2 separate regions of the Homo sapiens genome follow, and region 1 is linked to region 2. Evidence: fine-mapped expression QTL. A gene starts in region 2. The other region holds a variant in brackets. All regions are shown on one strand. Distances are from middle to middle. Region 1 overlaps TMEM44 (transmembrane protein 44). Region 2 holds the start of TMEM44-AS1 (TMEM44 antisense RNA 1).

Region 1 (4,387 bases), 32 kb after region 2:
ACCAACATGGAGAAACCCAGTCTCTACTAAAAATACAAAATTAGCCGGGCATGGTGGTGCATGCCTGTAATCCCAGCTACTTGGGAGGCTGAGGCAGGAGAATCGCTTGAACCCGGGAGGCGGAGGTTGTGGTGAGCCGAGATCGTGCCACGGCACTCCAGCCTCGGCAACAAGAGCAAAACTCCGTCTCCAAAAAACAAAATAAAACAAAACAAAACAAAAAACCAAAAAAACCACAAGGAATAGAGTAAGTAGTTACATTGCAGTGACCACAAACAGCAAATGGGTCCTCGTGGCTTGAGAGGACTTTCTAGAGGCAGCATCACAAGCCGATTTCCAAAGGCTGGATCATGTAGCTGGGCATGACGACAGGCTCTGGAGCACCGTGTTAGGTGGTGGTAATGATGTGGATATTAAAGATGCATGTGAAAGTGGGAATACAGTTTTTGAAGAAATATGAGTGAAAATCACATAATTTACTTATGTTTTTGAGATGGGGTCTCACTCTGCAGCTCAGGTTGTAGTGCGGTGGCGCCATCTTGGCTCACTGCAACCTCTGCCTCCAGGATCAAGAGATCCTCCTGCCTCAGCCTCCTAAGTAGCTGGGACTACAGGCACACACCACCATACCCGGCCAATTTTTTTTGTATTTTTGGTAGAGACGGGGTTTCACCCTGTTGCCCAGGCTAGTCTTGAGCTCCTGAGCTCAAGCAATCTGCCTGCCTTGGCCACCCAAAGTGCTGGGATTACAGGCATGAGCCACTGCACCCGGCCAAAAATCACATTATTTAAAAATGAATATATTAAGGTATGTAGCATGTGAACTTAACTACCAGTAAGTAAATTATTCAAAAGCTTCAAGTGGGCATGCGACTATTCCATCTACATTGCTAAAAATATAAGCCATTAAGTGACCAAAAAACTTCAAAACATTTGTATAATTGCGAAACCGGAGGATCCTATGGCATTCAGGCTTCCCTTAGCTTTGAACATAGACAGTAGCTTTTTAAAGTGACCAACTGGGCTACGCACCACGGCTTATGCCTGTAATCCCAGCACTTTGGGAGGCCAAGGTGGGCAGATCACCTGAGGTCAGGAGTTCGAGACCAGCCTGGCCAACATGGTGAAACCCCATCTGTCTCTACTAAAAATACAAAATATTAGCCGGGCGTGGTGACATGTGCCTGTAATCCCAGCTACTTGGGTGGCTGAGGCAGGAGAATTACTTGAATCTGGGAGGCGGAGGTTGCAGTGAGCTGAGATTGTGCTACTGCACTCCAGCCTGGGCAACAGAGCAAGACTCCATCTCAATCAATCAATAGATTAAAAAAAAATAAAAATAAAGCGACCAACTGGGCAAGCAGGGAGGGACTTCTGGAATTCCCAAGCCCCGGCCCTCATGGAGGCTCAATGCCCCGTCCACTCCATGCCAGTAAACAGGAAGGGCCCGTTACATGTCATGTGTTAGGTTTGGCCACTATTCCCTCAGCGAGACAGGACAGCTGTCTGAGTCGCCTGCAGAGAACACTCGGCAGGCAGCTTTCACACGTCCGTCCGCAGTATCCTGCTGTTTCTCAAGATACTGTTGCTGGGACCAGAGTTTTCCAGCCAGAGAGACCTTGTCCTCGTTCCTCACCTCCTGGTTTTCTTCCTCTTTCTCTGCACAGGTCAAAAGGGCTTGGGTGTCAGGGCTCTCTCTGGCTTCCTTGGCAAATCCTAAGGCCTGTCTCATCTTGCTCTTCATCACACACGAAAGGAAAATAATCTGAGATGGTGTAAGTTAAGGTAGGAAGCAGAATATTCCAGCTGCCTAGCGTGGCCCTTCACCCCTCCACACCATGCTGCCACCCCCCTCCCCACTCACCTACTCTCCTCCCTCCCCTGTATTATCCTGCCTGGGACAGAGAGGAGCTCATCTGAAGACAGGGCTAGGGTGGATGTTCCTGTCCTCACGAGGGCCCAGCATCCAATGTGACCCTGTCCCT[A/C]ACAAGGACATGGTAAATATTTGCAAAACTAAAGCATTTTGGAAAACGTCTTTCTTGACAGGCCTGGCTTACAGTGACAATACATGCAGTGGGTTGAATAGTGTCCCTCAAAATTCAGATCCACCTCTGAATGTGACCCCCTTTTTTTTTTTGAGACAGAGTCTCGCTCTGTCACCCAGGCTGGAGTGCGGTGGTATGATCTTAGCTCACTGCAACCCCTGCCTCCCTGGTTCAAGCGATTCTCTCGCCTCAGCCTCCCAAGTAGCTGGGATTACGGGCACCTGCCATCATGCTCGGGTAATTTTCGTATTTTTAGTAGAGACCGGGTTTCACCATGTTGGCCAGGCTGGTCTCAAACTCCTGATCTCAGATGATCCTCCCATCTTGGCCTCCCAAAGTGCTGGGATTACAGTCGTGAGCCACCGTGCCCGGCCCAGACTGTGACCTTATTCGGAAGTAGGGTCCTTGCTGATACAATTAGACAATGAAGTCATAGTGGATTGGACTGGGCCCTAACTCCAACAGCTGGGGTCCCTATAAGAAAAGGAGACACACGAAGATACACAAAGGGAAGAAGGCCACATGAAGGGCAAGGCAGAAATGTAAACGACACTGCCATGCATCAAGGGACACCAGGAGCCACTAGCAGCTCCTGCAGCTCCACTGGCAGCTGGAAGAGGCAAGCGAAGATTCCCCTCTTAGCGCCTGCAGACGGCGTGGCCCTGCCTTGCCTTCACACACACCCCACCACCAACACGCCACAGCCATTAACCACAGTCAGCATCTAAAAATACAAACATTTTTAGTCTCCACTAAAAATAACAAAAATTAGCCAGACGTGTTGGCATGCACCTGTAGTCCCAGCTACTCGGGAGGCTGAGGCAGGAGAATTGCTTGAAATTGGGAGGTGAAGGTTGCAGTGAGCCAAGATCACGCCACTGCACTCCAGCCTGGGCAACACAGCGAGACTCCATCTCAAAACAAACAAACAAAAAAAGGAAACATAAAACTACAAATAATTGCATTTGTGTTTGCCTGCCCCAAGCTTCAAACCACTCCCTTACTGCTGGGAGAGTTCCATCTAGCAAGAGAAAAGAAGGGTGGGGCAGGGGCAGTGAGAGGACGAGACACAGGCCTCCTCTGGCTGCAAGCAGGGAGCTCCCCAGGCCTGGGGTGGATACAGCGAGGTCCAGTGCCGCACGGCCGAGGGAGGTCAGGAACCAGGGTGTGGCCCGCAGCAGGTACTCAGGGTGCTGGTCGTGGGCCACAATGGCCGAGGCATAGAGGAGGCCAGCCAGGGCCGACAGGAGCCGGGTCCACAGGTGGATGGAGGGAAATGTCTTCCCCCGGCACTGGGCAGAGAGAGGGAGGGGCTGGGCGGGAGAAGCAGCAGATCACAAGACCCAGGGCCCTCAGTGGCACAGCAGGTTGCGGGGCAAGCCCTCTGCCTGCAGCCAGTCCTCCAGGGCAATGCTTCTGTTAGACTTACAGCTTTTGCTCGAGTTGCTTCTTCTGCCTGTCAAACTCCTACTCATCCCTCAGAACCTGGCTTCAACTTAACTCTGGGAAACCTCCCCTTACCAACTCCACCCTAAGGCGAGCAAGCAACTCCCTTTTCTGGGCCCTAACGCATCCCTCCAGCGGAGTACCTTTGATTGATCATGACTCAGCTCTTTACACAGTCAGAGAGCTCCTGAGGGCTGGGCAGGGGTCCTCACCATCTCAGTGCCCAGCACCTGACGCTGGGCAGCGGCTCGCCAATGTCCGCTGGGAGAACGTGAGGGAGACTGGGATGGTTTGGACATTTGTCCCCGCCAGATCTCATGTTGAGTCGTAATCCCCAGTGTCGGAGGTGGGGCCTGGTGGGAGGTGGTTGGGTCATGGGGTGGATATCTCATGAATGGTCTGGCACCATACCCTGGGTGCTGTCCTCACGACAGTGAGTGAGTTCTCCTGAGATCTGGCTGTTCAAAAATGTGTGTGTGGCACCTTCCCTTCCACCCTCTTGCACTCTCTCTCTCTCTGCCTGCTCACACTTTGCCTTCCGCCATGAGTAAAAGGTCCCTGAGGCCTCCCCAGAAGCCCAGCAGATGCTGGCGTCATGCTTGGGAGCCTGCCAAACCGTGAGCCAATTACACCTGGTTTCCTTATGAGTGACCCGGCCTGAGGCATTCCTTTAGAGCAATGCAAGAACAGCCTAACACAGAGACCGGATCAGAAGAGCTGAGGCCCGGCCCTTCTCTCCCTGGGACCCCGATTCTGACCCAGGTCACATGGGGAAGATCCGAAAAATGAGAGATGATATTCTGGAAATTTTAAAGCCAAGAGGACATTTCTGGAGAATATGTAATAAAACTATTGGTTCAATAAAAGGAAATATGCACTATTTATATTTCTATGTA
Region 2 (4,387 bases):
AAAAGTAAATACATAAAAGCAATTTCCCGAGGACAGTGTTTTTCAGAGACTGGTCCTGGACCATCTGTAGCAGAATCACCTGAGGAGCCTGCTAAGCTTCCCAAGCCCTGCCCAGACCTAGGGAATCCTCCGGGTGGAGCCTAAGAGTCTACATTTGAGTATCAGGGCTTTAGGCTATACTGGCTAGCAGAAGGTAAGGCCCATGAAATGGCCCTTTTCATCCATGGCCATGCTGTCCTTGGGAAAGATGGTGGTGGCCGCCGTGTATGACGTCCCTTGTTCCAGCTGTGGGTTTAGAGAATCCCTCAGATTTCCTCTGGAGATTCCAGGTGCCAAGACACCTGTAGGAGGAAGGCCGGAAGGGAAAGGTCAAGTCCGGAGCAGAGGCGTGGACCGCGGCAGGCTGCTGTTGGAGCGTGCTGGGCTCAGAAGCCGGGTTCTAGCTAGGAAACTGCGGAGTGGCCAAGGAGTTCCTGGCGCGAGGCACGCCACACAACCCTCGGATGCGAAGACGGTGACCATCCATTTCTCAATACGCCAGTGGCCCTGCCGTGCTACTGAGCCTCGTCAGCCTGTATAATGGAAGCTGAAGATGATGCAGCTCAGGAAAAGCAAGTATGATCTTAAGAACCCTGTAGCTGGAAAGCATGTTCCAAATCAAACCTAATGGAGACAACTACTAGAAGGTATAAAAGTTTTTTTTTTTTTTGAGACAGAATTTTGCTCCTGTTGCCTAGGCTGGAGTGCAGTGGCGCGGTCTCAGCTCACTGCAGCCTCTGCCTCGCCGGTTCAAACGATTCTCCTGCCTCAGCCTCCCAAGTAGCTGAGACTACAGGCGCCCACCACCACGCCCGGCTACTTTTTGTATTTTTGGTAGGGACGGGGTTTCACCATGTTGGCCAGACTGATCTCAAACTCCTGACCTCAGATGATCCGCCCGCCTCACCCTCCCAAAGTGTTGGGATTACAGGCGTGAGCCACCGCGCCCAGCCCAAAAGATTTTAAAAAGGAGTCTCTTGGAGGCAAAGGGACAGAACATTATTGTTTTTCATCATAAACCTTTTGGTGCAATCTGATTTTCTTTTTTTAAACCATGTACTTGCACTATTTTTATCTCAAAAAAGGTTTTTAATGCATTTAAAAACAAAGAAAAGAATGGTTTATAATACACCGTTAGGCTTCTGGGAGGTCTGAAACACACTATGAACCGTAAAATAACCTTGTAATTATCTCCTTAAAAACCGAGTGGGGTGGGCCAGGCGTGGTGGCTCACGCCTGTAATCCCAGCACTTTGGGAGGCCGAGGCGGGCGGATCACGAGGTCAGGAGTTCGAGACCAGCCTGACCAACATGGTGAAACTCCGTCTCCACTAAAAATACAAAAATTAGCCGGGCGTCGTGGCGCGCCCCTGTAGTCCCAGCTATTCAGTCGCAGAAGAATCGCTTGAATTCGGCAGGCGGAGGCTGCAGTCAGCAGAGACCGCGCCACTGCATTCCAGCCTGGGCGACAGAGACTCCGTCTCAAATAAACAAACCAAAACTGAACTACGGAGACGCCCTCGACAGTTCTTTCCCGGCTGCGTCGCCGCTGGCTGAGGTCAGAAACGCCGGCCTTCGGCTGCGGCGGCGGCTGCGGCGGCGGGGCGGGGCCGCGGGACTCTCGCTCCTCGCGGGAGGCGGTGGCTGCGGAGTGCGCACGCGCGGAACCGCAATTCCGTTCTTCCCGGAAGTGCCCTGCTGGTGCTGGGAGTAGGGCGCAAGATGTCGGCGGATGCAGCTCCGAGGAGGTAGGCAGTGGGAGCCGGCGTTCAGTCCGGCCCGTGCCAACAGTGGTTCCTCTCTCCCCCGTAGTTCGAGGAGACCACGCGCTGCCCCTCTGGCACGATCGTGGATGAACCCCCTGGCAACTGAAATGGGAAAGGCAGCGCCCCCGACTCTGGGGACTGGACCGAAGTCCACGGTAGTGACAGCTGCCAGACCCTGAGGAGAGGACGAGAAGACCCGAGGCCTCTGCTACGAACACTGGCAGCCGATGGAAAATTCAGACGGATTTGGGACAGTATGCAGAGTTCTCCAAGCGACAGATTAACAGAGGCTCTTGAAGAATAACTGCGTAATCACGTGTTCTGCTCAAAAGAAGGCCTGAATGCCCAGTGCCTTATTTGGCTTTCAGGGTTGGTGAAAGAAAAAGCAAAGTAGATGCTTTCTAATGCTAAGTCATTTAATGTAGCACCATTCCTTGAACTTCTTTCATCTCTAAGGTCGTCCCTTTCACCTGATGATGACCTTTGGGCCATCGTACAGGCATGTGTAAACTTGGAGATCTTCCTCAACATTGCACCATATCTTGGGTTCATTCAAGGCAGAGTCTCCTTGCAAAAGCATTCTAAAACAATGTAAAGTCGAAGAGAGTAGAGCAATACCTCCATAGTTGGAAAATGTGGAGGAGGCCAATTAAGGGACAGAAAAAGAAGTGCAGAGAATCTTGGAATTGTTGCAAAATTATTCTGGAGATATTTCTAAGTCTCCTCTATCCTTTTCCTTAGTGATTAATACAGGTTTTTATATTAAGTGGACAGTAAAATCCAAACAGAAAGAGGTATATGTCGTATAATGAAGCCTATGTTCAAAGTATATCTGAAATTTGTTTTTATAATGTCTTTCTTGAGAGCTTATAAAGATGTCAGTATTCTGTGGGAAACAAATTGGCACATGCATAAAAGAGAAAAAATGAAAAAAATCAGGCCCAACTTTCAGTTTACAGATGAGGAAACTGTGACATAGAAAAGGAAATGACAAAGATCACACTGAATCAGACCTGGGAACTGGAGCCCAGCCATGCTCCTTGGCCCAGTGCCTCTTCTTATTCTAGGAGCTCATACCCCTTTGAAAGAAACATAATATGAATGTGTCTTCAAATGATGCTCATAAATCTCTTCATCATACTGAGGGAGGGAGATAAGGGGATTAGTTCTTCAGGATCTAGACAGGCTTTCAAGAAAATCTTTAGCTGGGTGCGGTGGCTCATTCGTGTAATCCCAGCGCTTTGGGAGGCTGAGGCAGGTGGATCACCTGAGGTCAGGAGTTCCAGATCAGGCTGGCCAACAGCGTCTCTACTAAAAATACAAAAATTAGCCAGGCATGGTGGCGGGAGCCTGTAATCCCAGCTACTCGGGAGGCTGAGGCAGGAGAATCGCTTGAACCTGGGAGGCGGAGGTTGCAGTGAAGTGAGATCGTGCCATTGCACTCCAGGGCAACGAGTGAAACTCCATCTCAAAAAAAAAAAAAAAATCATCATCATCATCATCTTAGCAGAGCTCTCGCTAAATGATAAAGACTTGGCAACTGATATCCTTTTTTTCAGAGAACTTAAGTAGAGACTGGATAATCACTAATTGGGGTTGTGTTTAAGGGCATTCAAACCTCTGAAATCTCTTCCATCTGCAGGTCTAATTATTTGGTTACTCTTTCAGTACATGTGTGCAGGAAGCATGGGGGGAAAGAAAACTAATCCCTCTCCAAAGTCTTCTTTGAATAGGTATTATGTTTGCATTTTCATACATGTTAGTTCACTTAGTCTTCACCATAGGCTTTCTAGGTTGGTATTATTCTTAGTCTACCTAAGAAGTTCACAAAGGTTAGGTGACATGCTCCAAGCCACACAGATGATAGGCGGCACAACCAGATGATACTACAGGTCTCCAGATGAGTGAGCCAATGATTACATAGTTTGTTCCCCAGCCCCTCCCCAGTGTAGGTAAAGTGCCTGCACTGCTCACTGGGTCATCAGAGCAAGTTGCTCCCACTGCCCTCTTGGTCTAACGGCTAGAAACAAAGCTGCAACAGAGGCCCACTCCTACTAGGAGACAGGCATTTTAATTGGCACCTCCTTACAAAGGCTCCAGTGTTCTAGAGCTTTGCATACAGGAAGATTCTCGTTGAACAATGAAGCCAAACCTCGCTTCCAAAATTCCCAGTTTGGTAGTTCACTGTGGATGAAGAGGCCGGAGACACCCTTAGACAAGCTGGGACCGTGATGATAGGAACCAGTTTGTGAAGGGAGGAGGCTGGGCTAACAGGATCTAGGGAGATAGATGATATCTGGACCTTAGGTAGTTCGTGTTACTCAAAGTCAGCAAGGTTTTTGTTGTTTTTTGAGACAGTCTTGTTATGTTGCCCAGCCTGGAGTGCAGCAGTGCGATCTCAGCTCGCTGCAACCTCCACCCCGTGGGTTCAAGCAATTCTTGTGCCTCAGCCTCCTGAGTAGCTGGGACTACAGGTGCGGGCCGCCACACTTGGCTAATTTTTTGTACTTTTAGTAGAGATGGAGTTTCACCATGTTGGCCAGGCTGGTCTTGAAGTCCTGTCCTCAAGTGATCTGCCTGCCG

What was found. PIP is the estimated chance that this variant, and not a neighbour inherited with it, causes the effect. A credible set is the group of variants that fine-mapping cannot tell apart.
Region 1: its variant is the best candidate, but not a certain one, in a credible set for the expression of TMEM44-AS1 in testis (GTEx, PIP 0.57).

The regions. Positions count from the first base shown.
Region 1 is chr3:194,613,933-194,618,319 of GRCh38, forward strand. It overlaps TMEM44 (transmembrane protein 44), which reads right to left. Exons shown (of 10, transcript NM_001011655.3): 6 at 3,167-3,337; 7 at 1,637-1,765. Among named protein-coding and RNA genes, the nearest start is that of TMEM44-AS2, 17 kb to the right of the region's middle. RefSeq lists an enhancer at 3,628-3,922. The variant A/C (reference allele first, on the strand shown) is at 1,986.
Region 2 is chr3:194,582,276-194,586,662 of GRCh38, forward strand. It overlaps TMEM44-AS1 (TMEM44 antisense RNA 1), which reads left to right and starts at 1,993. Exons shown (of 3, transcript NR_047575.1): 1 at 1,993-2,173. RefSeq lists enhancers at 1,259-1,924, 1,960-2,009 and a silencer at 1,510-1,769.